4 linked regions of the Homo sapiens genome follow. The protein of the gene in region 2 interacts with the protein of the main gene of each other region in a pairwise test. Each region holds a gene or a part of one and is shown on either strand. Other genes may lie near its edges. The genes, in order: TBRG4, FAM9B, RAD51B and FAM161A.

Region 1 (7,930 bases), on a different chromosome or scaffold from region 2:
GCCGGAGTGTGGTCTGAGAGCATAGACAAGAGGAAAACAGCCAGAAATGCTGGGGTCCACAGCAGCCAGTGCTTACCAAGCATAGACAGGGGCCTTGCATCTCTTGTGATATTTTTTATTTTTTTATAAATTTCAAAGTGCTTTATCGTGCTTTCTCTTTGTTTATCCTTACAAGAGGCCTGTTAGGTAAATATTGCTATGCTCGTCTTACAGACAGCCAAGACGCATAGTGATAGAAGCATGGGAAGTGAGCCTGGTTCTTCTCAGTTCTTTGGGTGCTTTCCCCCTCACCATATAGTCTTGACTTGTATTGCTCTCTGCCAGTGTCTGGCTGATGGCAAGGCACTGTTTTTGAAGCCAAAGGAGATGCAGCATGACTGATGGAAGGTCCTTGAAACTTGAGACAGACGTGGGCATGATCTAGCCATGTTCAGACCCTCCAAGGATGACCATGGAGAGAAGCAACAAGACCCATTTGTGTGGCACTGAGCAGGGCAGAACTCAGACTACAGAAGCCAGTTCCTGCTCACTGTGAGGGACTCCCTTCTTAGAGAGTCTTCCCCTGGGCTCCATGTACAAAAAAAGGAGTACAGACTCCTGCTGTGGCTGAACTGGCCCTAAATCCCTGGTCTGCTTTGGAAGGGAAGTGCTGGGGCACTGAAACCATGTTTCCAGTTGTCAGGTGTAATGAAGAGAAAGGCACTATCCAAGGAAGGAGTTGCACTAACTGAGTGCTTTTCAAACTGCAGGTTATAAAATCAGTGTAGTGGGATGTGGCCAGCTGATTCTTAATGAGGTAGAGTAGTATAAAAAATACCAGAATTCATCACATATAGTAAGGGGATTCACTAATGTCTCATGGAACTTTTGTTCTAGTTAAGGATGTATATATATGCCTGTGTTGTGTGGACTGGGGTTACAGTACATAATTATTTCTTGCTGGGGATATAATTCATAAAATGAACTTAGTTAGGCCCCCTTGTTATTTGGCTACAATTCTAATTGCTGTTTATTGACTCTTTTTACTCACATGTGATTTAAGAAAGTCTTATGATGCAAGACTGAACATTGTAACAAAATTATAAGGCAAGTATCTGTAATGTAATAACAGCTTTCTTTTCAAAGATTTTCCTGCTGTCCATGAAACCGGAAGGTAGACACCCAGATCTTCTGTAAGATTAGAATTTACTCCAGTACTTTCTCCCTCCTCCCCAGCCCTTCAGACAGCAGCTTCTCTGTTCGCAGCTCACTTCCTTGAAGGTGTGGTTTCTGCTTCTCATTCATAAGCGCAGAGACTGAACCTGAGGGTTCAGTGTTGAGAGACTTGGCCCAGGAAAGGACAGAGCCATACTTGTTTTACCATCTGCTCTCTTCTGCAAGGCTGGATTCAGGGCCAAAGGGCTCTAGAGCCACCCATGTTGACACTGTGGGCCCTGTGGACACAGTACCTGAATAGCAGTTACCCTCTTCAGAAACAAAGCAGGCACCAGCAGAGAGGACGGGCTGTGGTGCAGGTTCCGGACCCAGAACTATGTAGAAATAAGTTCACCTTCGTTTACCTGTATAGTGGGACTGATGGTTCTCATAGGATGTTGGTGTCTCATGGGGGTACGCACACAGAAGGATGCCTGGCATTTAGTAAGAGCCTGTTCAGAGGTGCTGCTGGTAGCAGCAGCAGCTTGGTCATCCCTAGGAGGCCTCTGCATTTGGGAGTGGGCAGGGCTTAGTGATACCGGGGGTCTTTTTACCCATATGTCAAAAGCGTTCCTGCAAACCTTTGTGCCTGGGGTGCTCCTCCCTTTGCAGGCAGTTGAGGGTCTGGCATGCTTGGGTGCCGCGTCCCTGGAGGGTAAAGGTGGTGGTTCACTGCCTAACGCACTGCAGGGACTCCTGCTTATTGCAGCAGTTGCATTCCTAAGAAACTTTCACGTTGCCAGAAACTGCGAGATTGGTTTGTTAGAGAACAGTTTAGGGGTTGGAGCTTCTCTGACTCAAAAACAAATTATTTTCCTGGAGAAAAGCCAGTGTGTTTTGTTTTGTTGTTTGAGACAGAGTCTCACTCTGTCACCCAGGCTGGAGTGCAGTGGCACAATCTCAGCTCACTGCAGCCTCCACCTTCCAGGTTCAAGTGATCTTCCCACCTCAGCCTCCCAAGTAGGTGGGACTACAGGCATGTGCCACCACACCTGGCTAATTTTTGTAATTTTAATAGGCACAGGGTTTCACCACGTTCACCAGGCTAGTCTCGAACTCCTGACCTCAGGTGATCTGCCTGGCCCAAGTTTTTAATACCTAAAACTTTTAATGTCGTTGCAAGTAAAAGTCACGAATGATAACAAAACTGATCTTAGCAAGCGTAAGTGCCACCTTCTCTGCCATCAGGTGACATCCATCAGGCTCAACTTTTTCTCTGACCTCTTGTATTGATTTGACAGCTTTACTTGCAGCTGAAGTCTACGTGCCCACTACCCAGAGCTGTAGCCAGGACCATGTAAAAGAGTGTGGTCTCTCTTTAATCAACTACATTAGGTCAAAACTTCATTGGGGAAACTTGGAGAATTTCCCTTGCCACTCTAGAGTTCTTGCTTGCAAGCAATTGCAAATGACCTCAGCCACCTTGAGCAGAAATGTGCTATTTATTGTAGCCTAGAGGATCAGGCTCAGAGGTGTACCCTTGGATCTGGCCTGTGCCTGAGGGGTGCTCTGGCTCTGCAGGTGCTTGGCAGCCATGTCAAATTCAGTGCCTGCCCTGTCTATGGTAGGCACTGGCCCAGAAGACTGCCACAGAAACAGTGACTCACAGGCCCTGTTACTGTGTCCCAGGCTCAGGGATAAATTTGGTTACAGACACCAAGCGTCTAGGCCTCGAGGCTGAGCAAGGCTGTGAGGAGCAGCCAGGCACTGGGGCCCTGTTACAATGGAGTGGGGAACTGATACTGTCTTCTCTGAAGAGTTGTAGTAAATGCTCATGAAACAAGGTTCAGAGAGGTAGCCTCCAGCTCACACACAGGACTGACAGTGCCACATCATTTCTCCTGTGTCCTTTCTCTGCCTAGATTGCCTCGGTCTGGCATGGTACCCTCTCGAAGCTGCTGGGAAGCCTGTATGCTCTGGGCATCCCCAAGGCCTCCAAGGAGCTGCAGTCGGTGGAGCAGGAGGTCCGCTGGCGCATGCGGAAGCTCAAGTACAAGCACCTGGCCTTCCTGGCAGAGTCCTGTGCCACCCTCTCACAGGAGCAGCACTCGCAGGAGCTGCTGGCTGAGCTGCTCACACACCTGGAAAGGCGTTGGACAGAAATTGAAGATTCCCACACATTAGTGACCGTCATGATGAAGGTGGGACACCTCTCGGAGCCACTAATGAACCGCCTGGAAGACAAGGTACTGGGCCTGAAAGCAGGTGGCACCCAGCCTGCCTCCCCTGGGCTTTGGGCTTGTTCTTTGGGTGACAGTTGTCTGCAGAGGGGTGCGTTGTGTGCACTGGGATCAGAGCCCTGGGAGCTTCTGTCTGGAGCCTCAGGCATCACATGGGGCAGGACCAGAGGGCTCGGAGCTGCAACAGGTGGTTGCCCTGTGGCTGCATTCATCAAGCACCACTTGCTCCTCCCAACACAGGCGCTTCCCTGATTGCACCTTTATCTTTCCCCCAAACCCCATCACAGCACGATCTTGAGAGGGGGGCATGGCAGGCAGCTCCTGAAGTAACACAGCTACTGCCCAGGCCTGGCTTCTGGCTAGAACTCTCCTGGAGATGTGCTAACCCCTATCGGCTGTAGCCCTGCAGTCAAGTCAAATTCAGTGCCCGTTTCTGTCATAGCGGGGGCTGGCCCAGATGGCTGCCACAGCAAGCTCCACAGCTCATGGGCCCTGGGTCACCTACCCTGGGACCTGGGGATAAGTTTGGCTGTGGACAGTGCTCCAGGTCCAGGGGTTCCCTGGGGTGGATGAGGAGGCAGGCCCTGCACAGTGGTCCTGTGTTTAGTCAGCTCAGGCCCAGTCTGACAGGGGCTGTCACAGGGGCTGCACTGGATGGGACCATGGGACCCCTGCCCCCAGCTCATCTCTGCCACCCCAGGCCATTGAGCTGACCTCTGCGCGGCTGTGGTTGACAGTGCCTGGAGTTGGTGGAGCACTTTGGCCCCAATGAGCTGCGGAAGGTGCTGGTGATGCTGGCAGCTCAGAGCCGGCGGTCCGTGCCCTTGCTGCGGGCCATCTCCTACCACCTGGTGCAGAAGCCCTTCTCTCTGACGAAAGATGTGCTCTTGGACGTGGCCTATGCCTATGGTGAGCCCTTTGGACAGAACGGTGGAGAGAGGGGAGCGCTGGCCCTGCAGATGCCTGCAGCCGTGTCAAATTCAGTACCTGTCCTATGCATGGTAGGCACTGGCCCAGAAGGCTGCCACAGAAACACTGTGACTCATGGGCCCTGTTCCTGTGTCCCAGGCTCAGGGATAAATTTGGTTACAGACATCAAATATCTAGACCTCGAGGCTGAGGTGGGGTGGAGCTGCTGGGTGATTGCTGACTCTCTCCAGCTAAACCCTGTGATCTGCTCTGTCCTGAAGGCAAACTCAGCTTTCACCAGACCCAGGTGTCCCAGCGCCTGGCCACCGACCTGCTATCCCTCATGCCCAGCCTGACTTCTGGTGAGGTGGCCCACTGTGCCAAGTCCTTCGCCTTACTCAAGTGGCTCAGCCTGCCCCTGTTTGAGGCCTTTGCCCAGGTGAGCCAGGGCCTGGCCCCAACTCAGAGAAGCTGGCTTCCTGGCCATCTGCTGGGAACCATTGCCTTAGTCGGGAAAGTAAAGCCAGTCTGAAAATGCTCACTTGTGGGGGCAAATACATATTTCTTGCATTTTGGCTTATTTTGAAAGGGCTGCTATTCAGTTCTCAAAAAAGTGTTTGAGAACTGTTTCCTCTGTTCTTTCACTGACCATTATAAGTGCTTCCATCCATTTTGGGGTAGCTGTAGCAGGTAGCAGCATGGCTGATGAGACTGAGAATCCACTGAGAACTGTCTACTGAATCACTGATCCCCCTCGCAAAGTGGAACTGTACAGAAAGATGACACCTGCAGTTACGTTTATGTGTGACCAGTCTAAACTAAGTTTACTGGTTGGAGAATATTTCTAAATCCCTTATCAGAAAGAAGCAGCTTCTAGGTGTCCCCAGCCTCTGTGGGTAGTTGCTGCCAGGCGAAGGAGTGTCTGGGCCTGTGTAAGTCCTTCTCTGTTCCCGACACAGCTCATGGGCCCTGGATGGAGGGTCCTGCCATTGCCCCTGGCCATGCAGGCTCTCCTCAGACTCAGAGCCAGGCAGGAGGACAGCGTGCTGGGCAGAGAGCTTATTCTGTCCCTCTGCTATTTCTGACCCACCCAGCACGTCCTGAACAGAGCGCAGGACATCACCCTGCCCCACCTGTGCAGCGTACTTCTGGCTTTTGCGCGTCTGAACTTCCATCCAGACCAAGAGGATCAGTTCTTCAGCCTGGTAGGGCCTCTGGGCTCCCACTGCTCGACCTTTATCCTCCCCTTCAGCTAATGGCTCATGAACCGTCCTCCCAAGATCAGCTCGGGCTAGGTGGAGGCGGGAGGGGCCACTATGTGTGGCATGGGAGGGCAGGGGGAACTGATTGGAGCCAGGCATCCTAGGGATTACTGAGAACACATGAAATCCTGCTGTCTGGTTGACTGCCCTGCCAGGCAGCGCTGGGGGGTCCTGCCTCTGGTGCTCCTTTTAATGCCCTGTTGATGCTCAGAAGCTCCAGTGGGCCTTCGTGCTATGTGCACCAGCTCAGGGCAGGAGGGGGAGCCTTCTTTATGAAGACCTTAGGACAGCCACAGAGGCCAGCAGGCCAGGTGTGATCCCAGGCTCCCTGGGATTCCATCAGGGGTTTGTCTGGCACAGTCCTGAGAACAATTAGCCAGGGGCTGGGGAGTGCTGCTTCACCTCTTGGATGCTCTCATCTCTCAGAGGACCAGAGATTCCTCCTTCCTTGTCCCAGGTGCTCACTTGGAGACATTATGGGAGAAGGGATCTTGTTCCCTGCCAGTAGGTTGGTTGTAGTAAACCTAATCAAATGCCAGCATTCAGCAGCACTCTTCTGCTGTTCAGAGTGGTCTTGGGGCATGAGGAAGATTCCTGGTACCTTCAAGCCCAGGATTGCTCCAGGCCTCACCAAGGGCCAGGGTTCTGCCTCTTGTTACCTAGTAGCCTCCTCTGGCCTCATCCCAACCAGGCCAAGACCACATCATGGATTGTGTCTCACCCATGGCTATTTGCAGCCCCTAAGGAGAGCCTGCTTTCTCCACCACACTCTATCCTTGCCCAGGTACATGAGAAGCTGGGGTCAGAGCTGCCAGGCCTGGAGCCAGCCCTGCAGGTGGACCTGGTGTGGGCCCTGTGTGTGCTGCAGCAGGCACGGGAAGCAGAGCTGCAAGCCGTCCTCCACCCTGAATTTCACATCCAATTTCTAGGTGAGCCCCCTGCCCCTAGTACTACTGGAACTGGGAAACTGCCTGGTCTTGTCTGCCTAGTGCCAGGTGAGAATTTGGGGCAGATGGAGGCCAGGGCTCTCCCTCCCCCTCGCTCTCCATCCTCTCCCTGTAGGTGGCCAGCAGACCGTAACTCTGCTGCCTCCTGACCCAGAAAACTGGGCTGGGACTGGGTGTAGGGGTGCACTGCCCTCTCATCAGGGTCTCCCCATCTCTGGCCGTAGGCCCACCTCCCTCTTCTTTCTCCTTGTCTCCTAGGGGGCAAGTCTCAGAAGGATCAGAACACCTTCCAGAAGCTGCTCCACATCAACGCCACTGCCCTGCTGGAGTACCCCGAGTACTCGGGTCCCCTTCTGCCTGCCTCGGCTGTGGCCCCTGGGCCCTCAGCCCTTGACAGGAAGGTGACCCCCCTGCAAAAGGAGCTGCAGGAGACGCTGAAGGGGCTGCTGGGGAGCGCCGACAAGGGCAGCCTCGAGGTGGCCACGCAGTATGGCTGGGTGCTGGGTGAGGGCTCCCCCTGGTTGGCACAGGGCCTGGCATTGCCTGAGTCTAACGGGACTCTTCTAACCCACCCCGTCTGCAGCAAGTACTGACCTAGGGAGCTGCAGGGTGTCAGCCTGGGCTCCCCACAGTCCCATCTTTGTTCATCTTTCCTGTGGGGGGGTTTCTGAGGGATGTCCCCCAACATGTTCTCATCCCACACCCCTTCCCCAGATGCTGAGGTGCTGCTGGACAGTGACGGCGAGTTTCTGCCCGTAAGGGACTTTGTGGCACCTCACCTTGCCCAGCCAACTGGGAGCCAGTCACCACCTCCAGGGTCTAAGAGGTAGGTGGCCAGGGACCTGTTGGCCATGGGGGCACCATGGCTGTTGGACTGCATATTCTTTGCTTTCCATCTTTCCCCTCCGAGGGGCTGGGAGAGTGGAAGCATGTCAGCCACCTCTTCTTCCTTCCAGGCTAGCGTTCTTGCGGTGGGAGTTCCCCAACTTCAACAGCCGAAGCAAGGACTTGCTGGGTCGCTTTGTTCTGGCCCGGCGACACATAGTGGCTGCAGGCTTCCTGATAGTGGACGTGAGTACCTCTTGGGCAGGTGGTCACTGCACAGGGAGAATCCCCAACCCACGCTAGAGAGGGGATCAGGTGGAACTGAGCCAGCAGGTATAGACACATGCCCTGCCCGTGGCCCCGGGCCTCTCCCAGGAGCCCAGGGAGGGAGTTTACTGTGGATCCTAGCTGCTCCAGCCTCCCCTCTAACCTTCCCAGCATCTCACCCCGTGGGTGAACCCAAAAAGGCAACCAAGCCTGCTTATTCAGCTTAAGAGGTGGGCAGGGTAGGGCCCATTCACAGATGAGCAGCTTGAAGCCCAAGAGGCTGCACAGCTGTTGGGGCTCTGAGTGCAGCTGCTCTGCCCCCTTGGTCAGCGCCTGTTGTCAGGAA
Region 2 (7,854 bases):
TATGGAGACCTTCAGGGATTACATAAAGACACTAATTCACTTCAAATATACAGACCAGTGTTGTCTGCACATAATTTAGAAAGGAGCTAGCCTCTACTATACAAATCAGGAACCTGTTTTTCTAGGCCGAGAAAAAAGTTTTTTTTTTTTTAAACTAGCAGGCCAGAATGCTGTACCAACGTCTCTCTGGGAGGCCCAGGCAATTATTTGCAACCTTGTCTTTCATTAGCATAGTGCAGAGCATTTAGGACTCATAAAAATGCCACTTAGCAGAATGATGCAAGTTCAAGTACTCTGTGAGTTGTGGCTTTTTCGTTATTATTTTTCTGTTTTAAAGATAAAAAGCTACATTAATTTCAATTTTGTTGGATTCAATATGGTCAGTGTACATTGAGTGCTCCATATTATACGGATACCTTGGAAACTGTTCTGGACCTTCAGATGTAGTTTAATGGGGAATATGACTTCCCAGATAACTGCAATATAAGGCAAATTTCCCACGACAGATAAAAGCTCTAAATGGGTTGCAAAAAGAAAGAGTGTCTCACATATTTAAAAGCACTGGGTGAATGGCTACATTAAAGAGGAAACATTTAGGGTAGGTTTGAAATTCTGATAGGATTTGTCTGCCTAGGAAGGAACATTAATAATATCAGAGGCATGTGGGGTAAAGTTTGGTTTTCCTGGAGAGCAGTCAAGTAAAAGGAGAGCCATGTGACAAACTTGAAACGTGTTTGAGGTCCTAATCTGGAGGTCTTTGGAGGTTGGCATTTGGAAAATGCTAACCTACCTTTGTTCCGGTTTGGAACATTTGTGCTTTATGAAGAGCTCAACTTTGTGTCTGATATGGTTTGGCTCTGTTTCCCCACCTAAGTCTCATGTCAAATTGTAATCCTCATGCTGGAGGAGGGGCCTGGTGGGAGGTGATTGGATCCTGGGGTCAGACTTCCCCCTTGCTGTTTTCGTGATAGTGAGTGAGTTCTCATGAAATCTGGTTGTTTAAAAGTGTGTAGCACCTTCCCCTTCACTCTCTTACTCCTGCTCCGCCATGTGAAGATGTTGCCTGCTTCCCCTTCACCTTCCACCATAATTGTAAGTTTCCCGGGGCCTCCCCAGCCATGCTTGCTGTACAGCCTGTGGAACCGTGAGTCAGCTAAACCTCTTGTCTTCATAAATTACCCAGTCTTGGTTCTTTATAGCAATTTGAGAATGGACTAATACAGTGTCCAAGCCACTCATTAGTCTGGTACATCATTTTCCCTGACCCCCTTCCTCCTGGACCCGGTCACAACATCTTTATACCTCTGTTTTTCAGTATCTGGATATAATAATTTCTTTTAAATTATGTTTTAATTTAATTTCCCTATAATCTAATTCCTTAATACATTTAGATTGTTTTAATAAAACAAATGCTAATTCGCACACAAAGATAAATGAAATGTTAAAGCATGATACAAATATTCTTACTGGGAAAGTATTCATATCAGAATTTATGAAAGGAATATAAAACATAGAAAATATAAAGAAAATCTTTCTGAGATTTTGAACTTAGCCTTCTCAGATTCCTACTAACTGCAACCAGATTTAGGCTCCCTTTATACCAAAACCAAACAAACTAACAACAAGAAAAGACAATACGAAAGAAAGATAGAATTTTGAAGCACTCTTAACGCCTTCAAGGAGACATTGTTAAAGTTTCATTTTAAGAACTGTGAAGAAAAGTAAAAGGAGTTTATGTTATTTAATCTGTAGAAAAGTAGCTGAGGTATTCAGTACAATATCATGGGTCAAGACTGAACTCATTCTCTGAGTGTGCATAGCTTCTAGGGCAGGAATTCAAAATGATCTGGAACTTAAAACAGCCTGAAACAGCTCTAAGGTGGTTTTTCCAGTGCTCTGGGCAACAGTTTCCAGACCACAGCTCCCTTTCTCTCTTCTCAAATACAACACCATTATGCTTTAATGCACCAGAATGGAACATTACCTTCCATGCTTTACTCACACTGAATGTGAAAAATATATCATGTGAACATTTAAGTTTTGAAGATACTTTGAAGATCATTTAGTGCTGGCTCTCATATTAAACAAACAAACAAACAAAAAACCAGGCCAGGCGCAGTGGTTCATGCCTGTAATCCCAGCACTTTGGCAGGCCGAGGCAGACAGATCACTTGAGGTCAGCAGTTCGAGACCAGCCTGGCCAACATGGTGAAACCCCGTCTCTACTGAAAATACAAAATTAGCCAGGCTTGGTGGCGGGCGTCTGTAATCCCAGCTACTCTGGAGGCTGAAGCAGGAGAATCGCTTGAACTCGGGAAGCAGAGGTTGCAGTGAGCCGAGATCCCGCCACTGCACTCCAGCCTGGGCAACAAGAGCAAAGCTCCATTTCAAAAAAACAAACAACAAACATCACACACACACACACACACACATTTACATGCAGGTGTGTACACACACAACAACAACAAGAAAACTTTTCTCCTATTTGCTAATGTAAGTCTTTCTAATTTTTTTTAAATTTTATTATTATTATACTTTAAGTTTTAGGGTACATGTGCACAACGTGCAGGTTTGTTACATATGTATACATGTGCCATGTTGGTGTGCTGCACCCATTAACTCGTCATTTAGCATTAGGTATATTTCCTAATGCTATCCCTCCCCTCTCCCCCCACCCCACAACAGTCCGCGGAGTGTGATGTTCCCCTTCCTGTGTCCATGTGTTCTCATTGTTCAATTCCCAGCTATGAGTGAGAACATGCGGTGTTTGGTTTTTTGTCCTTGCGATAGTTTGCTGAGAATGAAGTCTTTCTAATTTTTTAATCTTTTGGGAAACTGTAGGTAGAATAGAAGATAGTAGTGGCCAAGGAAGTACTATAGGATGTGGTGAGGGTTCATTGGTTGAAAGTGAAAGAAAATGCTCACTCTACTGCCAAGAGAGCAATTTAAGATACTATGCCTGTATCCAAGACAATACATTTGTATTTGGTCTCTCCTGGACAGACGGAGCTTAAACTCTCATATCACTGTTCATTTTCATTGATTGTTTTGCTTTTATTTTCTACGGTTTTGGGTTTAGGCACATTGATGCTGTGTTAAGCACAAAATGATTCATGTGAGATTGTCAGAGTAGATTGTGCCCTTCTCTTGTTCAGTGTACTCTGCCTTTAGTTTATTCATTTATTTTTTGCATTATTTTACATTCATGAGATATCAATTCTCAGATCCATATTTTCCTTTTCTTCATATTTTTCTGATATGTACTTTTTGTATCATTTTGTTTAATTCCATTCTTACATACAGCATATACTTAGGTTTTTATTTTGATCCAAGTTGGAAGTCATTTCCTTTAGAATGCGAGTTTATCTCATTCATATTTCTTGCTCAACAGATTCACTTGGCCTTAATTCTGTTCTTTTATGTTATGTTATGGTCTCTGTAGTATTTTCTTTATTTTCCAACTTTTACTACAGGATTTGTATGCTTTGTGTGTGCTCTTTTTGGTTATATAGGCATTTAAGGCTGTGGATTAGTTTTCCTGATGACTGCCTTTATAATTTCAATAGTATAATGAAACTCTGTATCTTGATTTACAAACTTTAGGCAATATTTATTCACTCCCAACTCCGAAACAACTCTCTCCCTATTACAGGGGATCGGAGGTGGGAAAAAGCTGAGTTAACGATAAGTATTAAGGCATTAATTTGTGGGTGAAGGTTGTGGCATATGTCTGGATAAGTCTGGAGTATGAAGGTTTGTGGGCAAGTCTGGGGCATGAGGATGAGAAAGAAAAGTAGTGAGGAAACAAAAAAGGTTATGGGCTGGGCACGGTGGCTCACGCCTGTAATCCCAGCACTTTGGGAGGCCAAGGCATGCGGATCAACTGAGGTCAGGAGTTCGAGACCAGCCTGGACAACATGGTGAAACCCTGTCTCTACCGAATATGCAATAATAATAATAACAACAACAACAACAACAACAACAACAACAACAACAACAACAGGGCGTGGTGTTGGGCTCCTGTAATCCCAGCTCCTCGGGAGGCTGAGGCAGGAGAATCGCTGGAACCTGGGAAGGGGAGATTGCAGTGAGCTGAGATCTTGCCACTGCACTCCAGCCTGGGCAATAGAGTGAGACTCAGTCTCAAAAACCAACAAACACAAACGATAAAAGCACAATCCATTGATTAAAAAGGACGCAGCTGGGCATGTTGGAAGCACACAGGGCATGGGAGGGAGCCTGGGCTCCACCCACAGGGTGATGGCCATTCTAGCCAAAGGGGCAGGGGTGGCTGGAACAAGCCCCAGGGCGAGGTTCTAGGCCCTGTCCACTTGGCCTCCATCCCAAGTCCTTGTGTCTCTCCCCAGGAGGAGAAGCTGAAAGATTGTGGGGACAGAGGCCCCAAAGGGCCACCCCCACCCCAGTCCACAGCAACCACGGGCTGTCACTTAGGGGAAGGGTGAGGGCGTGCCAGCAGGGGGCCTGGCCCCACACAGCCCGTCACACGCATGTGCACTGAGCCGACCAATCAGCGAGGAGCGCAGGAAGTCCTGCCTGCAGCTCTCACGAGAACTGAGGACCCGTTTTCTTTACTTTTCTTTTTTTTTGTTTTTTTGTTTTGTTTTTTTTGGGACGGAGTCTGGCTCTTGCTGCCTAGGCTGCAGTGCAGTGGTGTGATCTGGGCTCACTGCAACCTCCGCCTCCTGGGTTCAAGCAATTCTCCTGCCTCAGCTTCCTGAGAGGACCCGTTTTCTAAGAGGTCCTAGTGGTGCCGCTGCCTGCAGGTTCTTTGAGGGCGCCACATCAGGGGTCCCTCAGGTGAAGCACTCGTGGTGGGGAGGCGGGAACGCAGGCACGAGGCCCTCTGGGAACCAGGGTGTGAAGCGCTGGGCAGCCCGCCGACCTGTGAGGAAATGGCCCCAGCGTCGTCGCCTGGGGCCTGGGTCAGGGCGAGGCCCTGAGGGTGGGCTAGGGTGGGCTGGGGTGGGCCAGGGCAGGGAGGGAGCTGGAGCTGCCTGGGTGATCCCTAGGGCCCGGGAGGGTCCTGGGGGCTTGTGCATGTGTTGGGGGGAGGGGCCGAGGGGGGGAGAAGTGGGAGTGAGGCGGGGGTGTTGTGGGGGACAGTCTGAGTGGGGCCCTCCTGCCTGGCCGCCCGACAGGACAGGACACTTGGGGTCACCGGGGGTCACCGGGGGTCCCCTGTGCGTCCAGGGGGGCGAGTGGCAGTGCAGCCCCTGACATTCCCCTAGAGGTGGCTGGGGAGATCCTGTGTCACCCAGCGGCCCTCCCAGCCACATGGGGTCGCTAGGTGACTCAGAGGTAGGGCTGAGTTCTGTCCCAAAAGGGCGGCGAGGATCCCGCAGAGGCCGTGGAGTTCAGGTGTGAGGGGCAGCTGTGAGCTTTGCAGCCAGCCCCGGGGACGGGCTGGACGGGCCAGGACAGGAGGGGACACTGGCATCTTTTCCGTCCCTTCCTGCTCCCACATGAGACCCAGGGCGGGCCAGCCCCACCCTTCTTGAACCTGTGATCCCAATGGCTTTCCTTTCCGATGCCAGGTTTCCTTAGCTTCCTTAGTGTGTCTTTGCGCTCACCAGGTTCGGGGATCGCCTCTAGCTTCCCAGGACAACCAGCCACGGATCCTGTGGGCAGGAGGGCTGCCAAGGCCCAGTTGGAGGCTCAATTTATGGCGGCCTGGGGGAAGAAGCATGCAGGTAAATACAGCCCAAGGGGACCCAGAAGAAGGTGCACGCCCAAGAGGACGGTCTGTCTGCTTTCTGCGCTGGGGGCACAGGGGCAGCCCGAGGCCCCAGGCCCCTTCGTGGCTCTGGAGTCCATTGTGCACGTGCTAAGATGCGCCAGGTTTTCAAAGCAGGCTCAAGGGCCTTAGGCTTCCCCGTGGAAGGCTCCCCCTCATAGCAGGGTTACAGATGCTCTCAGAGCAGCTCTTCTCCATGGGTGCAGTCCTGACATCCAAGGGGTCTGAACTGTAGTACGTTGTTTACTGGAACCTGAACCCGAAGGGCTTCCAAAAGTCCCTCGATAAAATGGTCAGGAACCGGTGATTCCATGTATAGCTCTGCTTTAAAGCTTTAATTGGCAGAGAGCCCCCCCCCCCCAAAAAAGTCTACAACTAGTACATTTCTCCACAAAAAATGTCCACAGCAGCATCTTCCTCTAAAAAAGGTTTGTCTTTTACATTTTAATGCAGGAAAGGATCCAGTCCGTGATGAATGTGAGGAAAGAAACCGTTTTACAGAAACAAGGGAGGAAGATGTAACTGATGAGCATGGGGAAAGAGAACCTTTTGCTGAAACAGATGAACACACGGGGTAAAGTGTTTAAGTCACTTTTGCCTGTCGGATAGGGTCTTTTAGGAAAAGTCAGCTTTGGACCATGTCATCACTGTTCTATTCTATGCAGAACATTTCACATAAGACATTTCTTTTCCCAACAAACATGGCATTTTGTGTAGTATTTTGTTAAAATTTTGATGTAACTTTTTTTACAGGGCTAATACCAAGAAGCCAGAAGATACTGCAGGTATGTTTTAGGAGTTATCTGTAGTTTATGAAAATTGTTTTCAGTCATACAACTGTTGCAGTAGGTTATATGAATTAGTGGACGACAAGACTGTCTTAAATGGCTTCTCATATGTAGCATTTAACGTACGTATTTAATGTAATCTATTTGATAAATTTTTCTTACCTTTTTGATTGTTGATGTGGAATGTGAGAATGCTTCTAATAATGGTGAAGCGAGATGGATGGCTTTTCTTTCATACATGTGGAAATTTAATTGTTTGGAGGATATTAGAGGACAGTGGAGGAGAAACAGCTCTATTCGTTCCTTTTAGTATACACAGATTAAGTCATATATCAATGGTTTTTTTTAGCTTTTACTTTAAGTTTGGGGGTACATGTGGAGGTTTGTTATGTAGATAAATTGCATGTCACAGGGTTTTGGTATACAGATTATTTTGTCACCCAGTTTATAAGCATAGTACCTGATGGGTGGTCTTTGATCCTCACCCTCCTCCTACCCTCCACCCTCAAGTAGGCCCAGTTGTCTGTTGTTCCTCTCTTCCTGTCCGTCTGTACTCAGAGTTTTTAATATGAGTTTTTCATGTTCCTAATTTAGCTGTTCTATTGTCACAGCTTTCTGATTTTGTTTTCTTTAAAGTACAAGAGAAAATTGAATTTTCTAAAATCATTTTCTATTATTATTCCAGTAATAAACTGTGTAGTAGAAAAGTAAGGACAACTTTTCTACCTAGTGAGAAACATGTAATTGGCTCCAAAAACTCATAAACTTTATATTGCTGTGTGAAATATTAGTTACACTCTTATAGGACCATATTTTCAAAAAAGTTTGAGAAAATTTCTGTAGAGATGATGGAGACAATACTCTTATTTTTAAAAAGCTCAATTCAGTTTTCAGCTCTTCTCTAGCGATGATTCATACAAGCAGTATATTTGGAAAGCTTGGTGACAAAGTGCTGGTTTTGTGAGCTGCCTAATACATTGGGCATTATAGATGGAGACTGTATGTAAAAAATATTTGCATTGTGGTACAAATCTTTTATGATTGCTGAAAATTATTCTTAGCAATTGATGGTAGAGCTCTGATGTGAAATCATGTTTAGGAAAGCATTCCTTGCAGTATTACAGTTTTCTGAAACACAGCACTATGGGTACAAATGTCATAAAAAGCTCCAAGAAAACATTTCAAAAGTGTTTTTGAATGTATTTCTTTACCTAAACCTAAATTTTTATACTCATGGCCATTGCTTCTTTTATTAAAATACAGTTAATAGCATCAATCACTAGATTGCTTAAAAATGCTTTTCTTATTGTG
Region 3 (5,745 bases), on a different chromosome or scaffold from region 2:
GCAATCAGCCTTGAAGAGAGATTTTACAATATTTGGAAATATTTTATAATATATGAAAAAAAATTTTAAATACAGAACAGTACAGAAAATCATAAAAGAAAACAGGTGAATCTAACACCCCAAATAAATACTAAAATTTTGTCCCATTTGTTTCAGATTTTTTTTTTATTTACAGGAATGAAACTTGACAAACTTTAGGACTCCTTTGTACCTATTCCTGGTCCATTCCCTCCTTATCCCACATTCCTCCACAAAAGTGGAAACTCTCCAGAGTTTGGTCTACATCTTTCCTCTCCATTCTTAAAAACTTTTCTACATATATGTGAATCCACACATAGTATAATGATTGATTTTGAGTGCATTCTGAAATTTGCATAAATGATTTATTGTACACGATTTCACAACTTGCTTTTGTTGCTTAACACTGTTTTTGTAATATAGCCATGTGATACACAGGTCACATGATACACAGGCCACGTGATACACAGGTCACATTCTTTCACCTTAGATATCCACATCCATTCAGTGTGTGAATGTACCACATGCTACCCACTCCCCTACTTATGGAAATTTTGATTATTTGTAACAATTTTATTACCTGTGCTTCTTGATGTTTAGGTATGAGAGTTTCACTAGGTATATATAAAAAATGGAATGGCTGGTCAGAGTGTCTACACGTTTCCATTTACTATATCTTCCCAAATTGCTCTCCAAAGACTTTTACCAATTTATACTCGTTCTGGAGATAGTAGACCAATTTCTCTGCAGCCTCGTATAATCGTTAAGTTTGTTGTCATCTTTCCATAGGCAGTCTTCTCATGCCTTCTTTAGGGATGCACTGCACTCTAGCCTGAGTGACAGAGCAAAACCCCATCTCTCTCTATCTTAAAAAAATTCTTCATTTCCCTAAAGTTAACTATATAATAGTTCCCAGAAAGTGAGCTTTTAATCTCATCCATCACCCTGATTCTCACTTGAGGAAACTGAGTTCCAGAAAGGTAAAGTAATGTTCACTGCCTCAAAATTGGGTTTGTAGCCATTTCTAAGCCCTCAGCCTGGGCTCCTAAGATTTTAGAAAATCCGAAGTGGGTTTGGGCCCTCTCATCTTCCATCAGGGAAGCCCCTGTGACAACTTACCTCTCAGGCTTCATGAGCCTCTGTTGAGATACTTCAGGCCTGTCCTGAAATTTGAATCTGGAAATTCTAAGCTAAAATGGATTGGTCATACTGATACAATAATCCTTCAACGAAGTCCCTGAGTGCAGTTAGATTATAAGTTTGGCCAGGTGTAACTATAACCTAAACTAACAGTGGTATACATGATAGAGATGTACTGCTTCCTCCTGTAGTGCCGAGGAGGAATGCAGTCCAGAGCTGGTTTGGCAGCTTAGCTCTACATGTCTATCGAAGAGCCCAGGCCATTGACTTTTTGCTCTGTCACACCTAGGATGTTGCCGTTACCATGGTCCAGAATGGTTCAGCATCATGCCCTCCATCCCAGTAGCAGGATGTGCATGAGATAGAGAATGGTGGTGGGAGAGAAAGCATCCCCCATCCCTTAAGGACATTAACCAGAAGTTATACACATTATTTCTGTTTATATGATGTTGGCCAGTCTGTAAATATATGATCAGAAAGGCTAAAAATATAGTCATTAATCTGGGTGGCCATATACCCAGCTAAATTTCGGGATTTCTGTTATCATGAGAAAAGAAAATGAATATTCGGTGACACAGCCCTTTCTGAAGAGCCCAGTTGCAGAGATTAGGTGCAATAGTACAGACGTAAGGGCTGGGCTTGTTGCATAATAGAGTTATACTCTTAAAATGCAGCATAAATATTGTATGTATTGAAAAGTGCCATCAGGACCCTCTTTGGTTCCAGACTCTAAAGTAGAAGAGAAAGGGTATCACTTCACCAAGGATCAGCACCCAAAAATCTTGTTCTGCCCACCCAAAACAGAATCTCCTTCAGGAAGGAACTTTAGTATGTGTTTTGCTTTTATGCAGTATCCAGGAAAGAAACTTCAATGAGAGCTACTATTGCTTATAGCACAAGGCAGGGCATGAACTTGGGTCCAAAGTCATAGACCAAACACTTTTTTTTTTCCAAAATGTTTTTTCCTACCTCCACTTTTAAAAAAAAAATGAAACAAAATATCAGTTGAAATAACATTATTGAGAAAAACTTTATTCCAAGGCCTGGACTATAGTTAGACTGGATTTACATTTCTCTTTTAGAACCTGGAAGCCACTTGGCTATCTTTGCAGAGTTAACAATTTGCATTTGCAAAAATGGCCAGGTAACAGTACCAAAATATGTTAAATCAATTCAGGTTGTTGATTTTCTTTGAAAGTCTCTTCCAAAGAACTTCATGTTCTTTCTGGAATATGATTTAAGCTGCATTTCAGTGAGTTCAGTTCAGCAAATATTTGTTGAGCATCTATTGTTCACAAAGCATGGTGCTCAGGGGTCAAGAGATATAAGGCTGAAAAAAAAAAAAAAAAGGTCCCTTCCTTTTAGTAGCCCAGAATCTAGTTAGGAGAGATGTAGTTAAATAAGTTTAATCAAAAGCCAACTGTGATACCTATTACCAAGGTTCAAACAGTGGAATATAGAAGGATAAAGGGAATAGACTTATTCCAAGTAGGATGACTGAGGTAGGTTCTTGAGAGTACGTGGGACTTGGACTGGATTTCAGCTTGTGAATACTGACAAAAACCGCATTCCATTGTCTCTTGACAGAAGCCAATTTCTTTTGCTATTTGAGGATAGATTCAGGGACACTGGGGAATGCTGATTAGTTCCATCACTAATGCTGATTAGTAGTGAATGTTGAGTCATGCTGACTAATGTGTTCTAAATGGATTGACTCAACAATAAAGGCAACGTTGAGAGTCAAGAGTTCAGATCCTGAATTTCACCGATGAAGTGTAAATCATTTCGCCACTTAGTGCTTAATTTTTTTGTCAATTAAAATGTGCTCGTGGGTGAGAATCCAGTAAGTCATCTTGACCCATGAGGGCTTTACAAACTTCAAGGATAACAGACAGCTTAACAGCAACTACCAGGACAGGCTTATGCAACCTCAGGTTATTCATAGCTCACACAGAGTCAGAACACCCATCACATGCTGCTCGCCAGCCATGCGAAACTTCTGTTTCCTCACACATGCCATGAGAACTGACAAACAGTGCACTGAACTCACAAAACCCGACAAATAGAGGAGCTTTTGAAAAATCTTCCTATCTACCTACTGGGGTGTCTGTGTCTTTCTACAACAAATGTCGCCACAGAACTAAGGGCTTGCATTGCAGACACAGCTCTTTCTCTCTTTTGACATCTCCCCAGCTAGACTGCTTGAGAACCTGGCCTTCCATGTCCAGATGTTTACTGAATTCTGAAGCCCTCCCAGAGAGCCCAGGTTCTTTTGTTGCTCTCCAAATCATTTCCCACAGAGGCTGACCAGTGTCCTGAAGGAGCCCTTCAATAGGGAGGATAAATGAAGGCAGATGAAGACATGACCCCCTGAGGCTTGCCCACATCCACTGGAACAAAGGGTGTGAGGCACAACCTTGTAAGGAGTGTTTTGGTCAGCCGCGTCCCTATGCGAGGCCAAGTCTCCCCCACAGGGCTGCTTTCAATGGCTACCATCATAGTGGAAGTATTGGGCATTTGTTAAGGACTGTGGTGTGCTAGATATAGCACAAAACATCTAAATCATGGTCCCCTGCCTTTGTGAGGGCTTCCTGGCTACAGATGGCAGCTGGCTTTCTCAGGGGAAACTTGGGGGTCATAGAGAAAGCTGAAGAGGGGTGCTTGCTTCTGTGGATGACCTCTTCCCACCCAGTGCAGCGACACTCCCCTTTTGTCTATAGCTATCCTTAGTCAAGCCAGGGCTGCGGGACCCTAACCCACACTTCCGCTGTGTTTCTGGATCTCTGGTTTGCAAGGCCAGTGGCTCTGTGGGCAATACGTATGAAAGAGGACTGCTGTTGGAGGAAAGTTCCATTTAGGTTGCTGGTGGGAAGTTAGTGCATTTCATAACAATTTTTTTTTTTCAAACTTTCTCTTTTTTTTTTTTTTCCTTTAGGCCAAGAGAAGCCATAGGGATACTGTGACCTTTGTCTAGAGTTGATGGGGGTGTGATTTGTGAAATAAAACAGGACCGTACTGCTTGGAAGAAGGAAACGGAAGCTGACATAATGGGGATTAATTAGTTGATTGCTGTTGAGATGGTAACAGATTTGCTCCTAAACCATTGAGCTAGCGATTTCAGACCTAGCAGGGAAGGTGAAGATGAAGAAGCCTTTGTTCAGGTCTCTAGATGTGTAGGGCTGAGGGCTTTGCCGCCATGGGATGTCAACAGCCATAATAATAATTTGCACTTATATAGCACCTTTCAACCAGGCACCTCAAAGCGGTTTAACCACATTAATTAATTAAAGCCCACAATCCTCCTGGGGAGAGGAGGAGGATGACTAACAAGATTTGTAATTACAGGAGGGAACATTTCCGAATAAAGTATTGTCTACCAGATAAAAAGAGTAGGTGTAAAGGAATTGGGGTCTCCAAATAGTAACCGATTCAGAAATGAAATCATGGAATGATGTGGGAGGCTGGGGGCGGGCATGGGCAAGGGGGTCGACTCTGTGTCAGAGGGAGGTCGATGGGCTCAGAATTCACTGACAGGTTCAGATCCAGCCGAGAAGTGGAGCATGTATGGTATTAGTGGCATTTGAAGGTCATTAGTGGCATAACTATTGTAGTGTAAATTCAAGTTTTATTGGTATATTGTGTATAGCCCTGCAGAACAAAGACTGAGACTCATGCAGTATTTAATAAAGGATGAAATGATTTCTTTAGATTTAAAGCCCAAAGCTGGGCCAGTCAATTAGCAAATAAATCAATTGGTGACCCGTAGGATAATTTAGTCGTTTCCAGTAGAACACCCAGCCTACACACTCCTACTGCCATGAGGCTCTGATTGAAGCATCAGACTGGGTTCAGGGCAAGGTCTGGGGGCTTTAGCCCCTTCAAAGCCAGGCATTAAATCTTTCCAGCCTTTGGCCTTGTGACCTATCTTACCCAGGTTGTTAGTGACCTCAAGCTGTCCTCTGTAGAATCACTTTGTACCTGCTCCTCCATCAGAGATTTTTAGTGCATTGAGGGCTAGAATCAAGTCTCATCCTATTTCATGTCTCCTATGAGTGCCCAACAGAGTGCTGTGCACCAAGTAGGTGCAGATTGATGAAGATTGATGAAGAAAGACTGAGTCCTTTAACGACTCAGTATTTGTTGAGCGCATACCAAGTGCTCAGGTAAAGCTTGAAAACAAAGCTCAGTGTGTGCCTGCCCTCCAAAAATGTACTCCAAGGAATGGGAAAAGACTTACAAACTATTAACTATAATATAAAGCAGAATCACATCCAAGCCCCGGGCAGCAAGGGCAATAGGAAGAGCATCTTATTCAGCTGGAGTGAATCAGGGAAGGTATTGGTGTGCTGTGCATCGGAAGGCAAGAAGGATTTGGGTAGACCTGGAAGAGGCAGAGCAGGAAGATGTCCCAGGCTGTGACCATGTGTCTCCCTCTGAGTGAGGTACATTTTGAGAACTTGGGATGTTCAATAGAATGTTGGTGAAAACCAAGGTGAGTTTTCGTATTTAATCAGGAAATATACATTTCCTGTGGATTCTTATGACATGAATTGGTTAATTTCAGACATCAAGGGACTATTTGAGAAG
Region 4 (7,930 bases), on a different chromosome or scaffold from region 2:
ACAGGTGCTCACCACCACGCCTAGCTAATTTTTGTATTTTTGGTAGAGATGAGGTTTTGCCATGTTGGCCAAGCTGGTCTCAAACTCCTGACCTCAGGTGATCTGCCTACCTTGGCCTCCCAAAGTGCTGGGATTACAGGCGTGAGCCACCGTGCCTGGACAATAGCTTTTTCATAACACCAACTTGTGTATAATTAAGCCTAATTATCATTTAAAAGTATAATTATTTTCCCCAATCCATTAATCTTATTTATCTTGGTAGCAATTATATCTTACATAGAGAAAATAGTGTAGTTTAATTTATTATAGGATCTTGCTCAAACAGTGAGAACACTTACGGTAAATTTATATATTTTGGTTCCTGTTTCTCTTTATGTTGTATTCCCATGCTCTTTACTTCTCCTTTGACTTGCTCCCATTGAATTAACTTTGCCACTAACCTGTAGGAGATCTTATTTAGGGGAAAAAAATAACAGCAAAGGCTGGATGCCATGGCTCACATCTGTAATCCCAACACCTCAGGAGTACAAGGCAGGAAGATTGCTTGAGCCCAGGAGTTTGAGACCAGCCTGGTAAACATAATGAGACCCCCATCTCTACAAAAAATTTAAAAAAATTAGCCAGGTGTGGTGGCATGCCCCTGTAGTTCCACCTACTCGAGAGCTAAGGTGGGAGGATCATTTGAGCCCAGGAAGTCAAAGCTGCAGTCAGCCATGATTGCACCACTGCACTCCAGCCTGGACAACAAAGTGAGAACCTGTCTCAAAATTAATAGGCCAGGCGCAATGGCTCATGCCTGTAATCCCAGCACTTTGAGAGGCCAAGACAGGCAGATCACCTGAGGTCAGGAGTTCAAGACCAGCCTGGCCAACATGGTGAAACCCTCATCTCTACTAAAAATACAGAAAATTAGCCAGGCATGGTGGTGCACACCTGTAATCTCAGCTATTCGGGAAGCTGAGGCACGAGAATTGCATGAACCCAGGAGGTAGAAGTTGCAGTGAGCTGAGATTGTGCCACCGCACCAGCCTGAGCAACAGAATGAGACTCCATCTCAAAACAAAAGTAAATAACAACAACAATAAAATAATAATAAAAAATAAGAGCAAAGTCTTGTTTTCAGGAGAAATTCCTTACAGAGAAGATAGCTAATTTGTTCCAAAATTTTCTTGGTTTTATACACTTATAAATGAGACAAGAGGACTTTCATTCATCTTTTCAGGGCAGTTTGAAGTCCCTTAAAATATTTATGCCTTGAGGATTTCAGAAATTAAAGTGTCCAGACTATTCCTAGAGCATAATATGTGTGATCTCAGAACCTAGGATTTTATTCTGCATTCCATGAGAATTAACCGGTATAGAAGAGGAATCGAGGTAAACTGTGAACTGTGCTTATAATTTCTGATTTGTCAGCTAAGCTAAATGTTATTTCTTTTTTTTCATTGACTTTGTACAAGTTGATAAGTTAAATGTTACATATGTAAGTTCTTATTTCTTAGATGATCTTTTAAAATTCCATTGCTTTTCTTTAATTTTAGAAAGAGCGAAAAGGAAAGGATGAGAGAATACCAACGAGAACTAGAAGAAAGAGAAGAAAAATTAAAAAAGAGGCCACTGCTATTTGAAAGAGTTGCTCAGGTTGTGTTTATTGGAATTTAAGAGCTATCGTCAGTTTTTTTTTTTTTTTTTACAGCTTTAGCTCCTAAATTTACAGTCCATTTTTCTTATGTGTTATATAACTGTTGAGATACATTATTGTTGTTTGTGTTGGCTTCATCATATCAGCCAATGAGTAATTTTGCTTAAATCCGAGCATTTAGCCAGGTGTGGTGGTGTGCACCTGTAGTCCCAGCTACTTGGGAGGCTGAGGTGGGCAGATTGCTTGAGCCCAAGAGTTTTGGTCCAACCTGTGCAACGTAGCAAGACCTCATCTCAAAAAAATAATCTGAACATTGAATCTTTTTGATGAAGCACATAAGTTTGATAAATAACATGCCAATCCAGTAGTTCGTAAAATAATTTTGCAAGCTGTTTTCTAATGGCTGGTCTTTTTTCAGTACAAACTTGGTTAGATATTAAGATGAGGCTTCATGATATCACTTGGAGGTCTTTGAAGAATTAAAAAAATGAAACAAAATGGCTAATTGAATCAGAGTTATTTCTGCTAGTTTTTTTTTTTAAGTGAGTCTGTAATTCAATCTTCTCTGCAATTACTAAAAGAACTTCCTTTCTATACGAAAAACAAACTAGTCTTACGGACAGTGGACCCTGATTTTACTAAGTTTATGCCCGGTTTTACAACCTTTCCCTTAAGGGAAATTTGTCAATTTTAGGTCATCTTCTCCTTTGTCCCATAGGGGAGGCATCTGTATGGGTGACATGGCTTAACAATTGACAAAATCACTGGAGGTTACAGGTTCTAAATTGTGAATTTGAAGCTGTTATAATTGGACAATAGACAGTTGGAGAATTTACCTGTAACAGATGAGCATAGTTACAGAACTGTACTTGCCAGTGACTCATTGAGGACAGTGGACATGTATTGTGGGTGAATCTGCACATTACAGTCTCTCAAAGTTACGTAATCTTTTTGCTCACTGATCTAGATATAATTTTATATAATGCCTTTCATTTTAAGTGATGGATTTTTTTAACATCTTTATTTCAACTTTAGGGGGAAAAATCATTTTAAGCTGTTCTACATTATAATCATAAAGTGATTGGCTTTTGGCTCAAAGACATTATCTCCAGCTCTGAACTGCAAGTTTTTTGTTTTTGCTCTTTACACTGCTTCTGGGTTTTTCTTATTTATTTATTTATTTATTTTTTCAACTTTTATTTTAAATTCAAGGAGTATATGCGCAGGTTTGTTACAAGGGTATGCCAGGCGCCGTGGCTCACACCTGTAATCCCAGCCAGCATTTTGGGAGGCCGAAGCAGGTGGATCACCTAAGGTCAGTGGTTCGAGACCAGCCTGGCCAACATGGTGAAACCTTGTCTCTACTAAAAATACAAAAATTAGCCGGGCATGGTTTTGCGTGCCTGTAGTCCCAACTACTTGGGAGGCTGAGGCAGGAGAATTGCTTGAACTTGGGAGGCGGAGGTTGTAGTGAGCTGAGATTGCGTCATTGCACTCCAGCCTGAGCAACAAGACCAAAATTCTATCTCAAAAAAAAAAAAAAGGGTATATTGTGTGAGCTGGGGTTTGGGGTATGATTGAACTCATCACCCAGGTAATGAGCATAGTACCCAATAGGTAGGTTTTCAACCCTTGCCCTCCTCCCTCCACTCTCCCTCTTATATTCTCCAGTGTCTGTTGTTCTCATCTTTATTTCCATGTGTACCCAGTGTTTAGTTCCCACTTGTAAGTGAGAACATATGATGTTTGGTTTTCCGTTTCTGCTTTAGTTTGCTTAGGATAATGGCTTCCAGCTGTATCCATATTGTTGCAAAGGACATGATTTCATTCTTTTTTATGGCTGTGTAGTATTCCATGGTGTATGTGTAACATATTTTCTGTATCCAATCCACTGCTGATGGGCTGGGTTGTTACCATGTCTTTGCTGTTGTGAATAGCATCAGCACTTGTTATTGTCTGTCTGATTTTTTTAGAAAAATATTTTTAGAGACAGGGTTTCACTCTGTTGCCCAGGCCAGTGCAGTAGTACAATCATAGCTCACTGGAACCTTGAACTCCTGGGCTCAGATGATCCCCAGTATGAGCATCCCAAGTAGCTGAGACAAAGGCCCACACCATCATGCCCAGCTAATTTTATTTTTTGTAGAGACTGGGTCTCGCTGTATGGCCCAGGCTGGTCGTGAACTCCTGGCCTCAAGTGATCCTCCCACCTCCACCTCCCAAGTTGATGGGATTACAGGCATGAGCCACTGCACCTAGCTTTTGTCTGTCTTTTTGTTATAGTCTTCCTAGTGGGTACAAAGTGGTATTTTATTATTCAGTAACATTCTTTCAACTGTTCTTTTATCTTTTTCATTACAGACTCTATCTACTAGCTTATTGATATGGTAGGTGAGGATTTAGCTGTTTTAACACGTCCTCTCGGAAGCACACTTACCTACCCTTTCAACGTCTTTCCATCTTTCTGTTTCCCAGTCAGCTCTATCACAGTTAGATCGGAATTCAGTGTTATAACTTAGTAAACAATGTTAGCAGCTGAGCCCTATATTATTATCATCACATTTCCTTTTTTTTTTTTTTTTTGAGACAGAGTCTCACTCTGTCACCCAGGCTGGAGTACAGTGTCACAATCTCAGCTCACTGCAACCTCTGCCTCCTGGGTTCAAGCCATTCTCCTGCCTCAGCCTCCTGAGTAGCTGGGATTACAGGTGCGCGCCACCGTGCCTAGCTAATTTTTTTGTATTTTTTAGTAGAGACGAGGTTTCACCATGTTGGTCAGGCTGGTCTCGAACTCCTGACCTGATGATCCGTCTGCATTGGCCTCCCAAAGTGCTGGGATTACAGGCGTGAACCACCATGCCTGGCCCATCACATTTCCTTTAAAAAAATTTTTTCTTGTGTTAATAATTACTAATTTTGTTTGGTCCTCCCCCCACCTTCCCTCATTCCCCACCAATGTATGTATCATTATTATTCTTAGGCTTTTCTGTTAGCTCTCAAAAATCCCCCTCAAACAGTTAAACACATTCGTAATTCATCAGTTCCTTTCCTCCCCTGGAGCCCACAAGTGTCCTGCTCCACTTTGGAATGGTTTCTCTCTAGGCCAGCAGTCCTCAACCTTTTTGGCGCTAGAGACTGGTTTTATGGAAGACCATTTTTCCACAGACCAGGGTTGCGTGGGGTGGGGTGGATGGATCGGGAAATGGATCATTTCAGGATGAAACTGTTCCACCTCACATCATCAGGCGTTAGATTCTCATAAGGAGCATGCAACCTAGATCCCTGGCATGAGCACTTCACGATAGGGGTCACCCTCCTATGAAAATCTAACGCTGTAGGAGGCAGGGCTCAGGCCATAATGCTCGCCCTCCCACTGCTCACTTCCTGCTGTGCAGCCTGGTTCCTAACAGGCCACAGACCCGTACCTAGTTCGTGGTAGGGACCCCTGCTCTAGGCCTCTGGCATAAACGACATCTTAGGACTTTTTCACTGTTATACTGGGGAGTAGTTAGATATTAACCTGGATTTATCTACATTTCTTGTATTTCTTTTAAAATCACTGTTATTTTATTCTAGTTCTGGAAGATTTCCTCAAATTTATCTTCCAAATCTGCATTTTTTGCTTACCTAATGAAAAATGACATAATTTCCAGAATGCTTCCCATTTATTAAATATTCCTTTGGTATTTTTCATGGGTGCAGTACGTTTTTTTTTGTTGTTGTTGGTTTTTTGTTGTTGTTGTTGTTGGTTTTTTTTTGTGTGTGTGTGACAGGGTCTTACTCTGTCCCAGGCTGGAGTGCAGTGGCATGATCTCGGCTCACTGCAACTTTAACCCCTTGGGCTCAGGCAATCTTCCCACCTCAGCCTCCCAAGTAGTTAGGACTACAGGCACAAGCTACCATGCCAGGCTAATTTTTGTATTTTTTGTAAAGACAGGGGTGTTACTGTGTTGTCCATGCTGGTCTTAAGCTCCTGGGCTCAAGAAATCCTCCTTTCTCGGCCTTCCAAAGTGTCGGGATTCCAAGTGTGAGCCACCACACCCAGCCTGTCTTTTATATCTCTGAGCATACTGGTGATATTGTCTCTGTTTCCTTCAAGTTCCTTTTTCTCTTTTTTAGCCTCTTGTCTATCATATTAGAAGCTTTCCTCAGATTATCTTTGGTTGTCTGTTTGCATTTAAGAGGGAGACTGCACAAAGCTATTTGGAAGCTGGTTTATAATGTTTTTTGAGAGGTTGCTGAAAGACAAGCACTCCACTAAGCACTTTATATGCATTGTCTTAACTGACCTTTACACTGCTCCTGTGAGGTTCTTATTTCACAGATGAGGGACATCTTGAGGCTTAGATGATACAACCAGAAGAAGGGGAACCAGGATTCAAACCCAGATCTGACTGTCTTCATGTGATTCTTTTATCTATCATATTGTTTTCCTGCCCCCTTCTCAACAAATGCTTTTTGAATATCAGAAAATCCCTTGAGACCCTTAAAGTCAGATAGAAACAAGACAGACAAATGTAGTCATTCAAGACACACAATTGCAGCAATTACAGATGTGTGTTGAGACAAAATTGTGAATATGATTGTTTTGGAGGTTGGGGGAATGGTCAGATTGATATGTTATTTTTTTCTGTTAACCTCAATTCCAGGGAGCAGGTACATAACCTGGGAATACTAATATTTGTGTTAGTGACATGCGAGGCTTGTTCCAACAGGTCTAGAAAAAAAAAAGGAAAGTAAATAAATGCTAAATTAAAGGAATCATTATGGGTGATACTATAATACAAGAAAGAAAGTATGAAGTATTATTTGGGAAGACCAATATTGAACACATATGCAGCAATGATTTATTATAGTGCTGTTTGTCTAAGAAATATCTTTTTTTTTTTTTTTTTTTGAGAAGGCGTCTCACTCTGTCACCCAGGCTGGAGTGCAGTGGCTCGATCTCAGCTCACTGGAACCTCCGCCTCCCGGGTTCAAGTGATTCTCCTGCCTTAGCCTCCTGAGTATCTGTGATTACAGGCGCGTGCCACCATGCCTGGCTAATTTTTTTTGTATTTTTAGTCAAGACGAAGTTTCATCATGTTGGTCAGGCTGGTCTCGAACTCCTGACCTTGTGATCTGCCCACCTCAGCCTCTCAAAGTTCCGGGATTACAGATGTGAACCACCACATCCAGCCAGAAATATCTTTATATTAGAAAAATTAGGCCAGTGACTCACCCTGTAATCCCAACACTTTGGGAAACTGAGGGGGGGAGGATCATTTGAGGCCAAGAGTTTGAGACCAGTGTCTACTGTTCTCATTTTTTTTTTTTTTTTTTTTTGAGACAGGGTCTTACTCTGTCACCCAGGCTGGAGTGCAGTGGCGTGATCTCGGCTCACTGCAACCTCTGCCTCCTGGGTTCAAGTGATTCTCCTGCCTCAGTCTCCTGAGTAGCTGGGATTACAGGTGCACACCACCATGCCCGGCTAATTTTTTTTGTATTTTTAGTAGAGACGGGATTTCACCATGTTGGCCGGGCTGGTCCTGAACTCCTGACCTCAAGTGATCCACCTGCCTCGGCCTCCCAAAGTACTGGGATTACAGGAGTGAGCCACCGTGCCTGGCCTACTGTTCTCATCTTCATATCTGTGTGTACCCAGTTCCTCCCCATTCAGCTGGTCATTGAGAGACCTGTCAAATTTTCTTCCTAAATAATTTTTGGATCTGCCCTTCACCATCCTTGGTGGTGAAATGCCAGGTGGAACCTTTATTTCCTATCTGAATCATAATAGTTTGATTGATTTTTCTGCCTTGCTCTTTGCAGAACCATTCATTATACCTTCGCCTTACCATTTTCATTCCCCTACTAAAATGTTAACCCTGGGTAGACAATTAATAAGCCTTTATAACAGGGACAATCATCCATTCTCACCAATTCCATTTATTCTCATTTTCAATGAATGATATCAAGGGGTCTTCTCATTAACTTCTCAAAAAGTATAAACAGAGTTACCATGGCAGTGAATCGCCATTGCTTTTTTTTTTTAGTACATTTTTTGCTGCAGTCTATTTTGCTGGAACTATTGCTGCTAATTAACAGCTGGTTTTTAATAAATTTGCTTGCAGCTATTTGCTTTGCCCATTTATAGGAGTTAATTGTGGTCTCGCTGCTGCTGAGTGATTCCCTAACACAATATGCCTGTGATTCTTTACAGAATAAACTATGTTGTCCTGTTTCTTGGAAATCACAGGATTAATTAACTGAGAAGATGTTAAATTGAATTTTAAACCAAAGTCAGATGAAGGC

Evidence for each region.
Region 1: the proteins of FAM9B (region 2) and TBRG4 interact in binary tests that used the Homo sapiens proteins (3 or more experiments, as listed by UniProt).
Region 3: the proteins of FAM9B (region 2) and RAD51B interact in binary tests that used the Homo sapiens proteins (3 or more experiments, as listed by UniProt).
Region 4: the proteins of FAM9B (region 2) and FAM161A interact in binary tests that used the Homo sapiens proteins (3 or more experiments, as listed by UniProt).

Annotation. Positions count from the first base shown.
Region 1 is NC_000007.14:45,100,891-45,108,820, reverse strand, and holds part of TBRG4 (FAST kinase domain-containing protein 4), read left to right. Parts: intron 1-2,721; exon of another isoform or gene 2,722-2,853; intron 2,854-3,056; coding exon 3,057-3,380; intron 3,381-3,778; exon of another isoform or gene 3,779-3,915; intron 3,916-4,111; coding exon 4,112-4,283; intron 4,284-4,338; exon of another isoform or gene 4,339-4,472; intron 4,473-4,564; coding exon 4,565-4,722; intron 4,723-5,377; coding exon 5,378-5,488; intron 5,489-6,329; coding exon 6,330-6,474; intron 6,475-6,750; coding exon 6,751-6,996; intron 6,997-7,206; coding exon 7,207-7,318; intron 7,319-7,448; coding exon 7,449-7,563; intron 7,564-7,930. UniProt on the Homo sapiens protein: Plays a role in processing of mitochondrial RNA precursors and in stabilization of a subset of mature mitochondrial RNA species, such as MT-CO1, MT-CO2, MT-CYB, MT-CO3, MT-ND3, MT-ND5 and MT-ATP8/6. May play a role in cell cycle progression.
Region 2 is NC_000023.11:9,030,816-9,038,669, reverse strand, and holds the start of FAM9B (protein FAM9B), read left to right. Parts: upstream 1-4,542; 5' UTR 4,543-4,818; intron 4,819-5,386; exon of another isoform or gene 5,387-5,548; coding exon of another isoform or gene 5,549-5,683; coding exon 5,684-5,711; intron 5,712-6,208; coding exon 6,209-6,329; intron 6,330-6,508; coding exon 6,509-6,540; intron 6,541-7,854. UniProt on the Homo sapiens protein: May play a role in meiosis.
Region 3 is NC_000014.9:68,473,555-68,479,299, forward strand, and holds the end of RAD51B (DNA repair protein RAD51 homolog 2), read left to right. Parts: intron 1-4,093; coding exon 4,094-4,110; 3' UTR 4,111-4,539; downstream 4,540-5,745. UniProt on the Homo sapiens protein: Involved in the homologous recombination repair (HRR) pathway of double-stranded DNA breaks arising during DNA replication or induced by DNA-damaging agents. May promote the assembly of presynaptic RAD51 nucleoprotein filaments.
Region 4 is NC_000002.12:61,829,718-61,837,647, reverse strand, and holds part of FAM161A (protein FAM161A), read left to right. Parts: intron 1-1,538; coding exon 1,539-1,638; intron 1,639-7,930. UniProt on the Homo sapiens protein: Involved in ciliogenesis.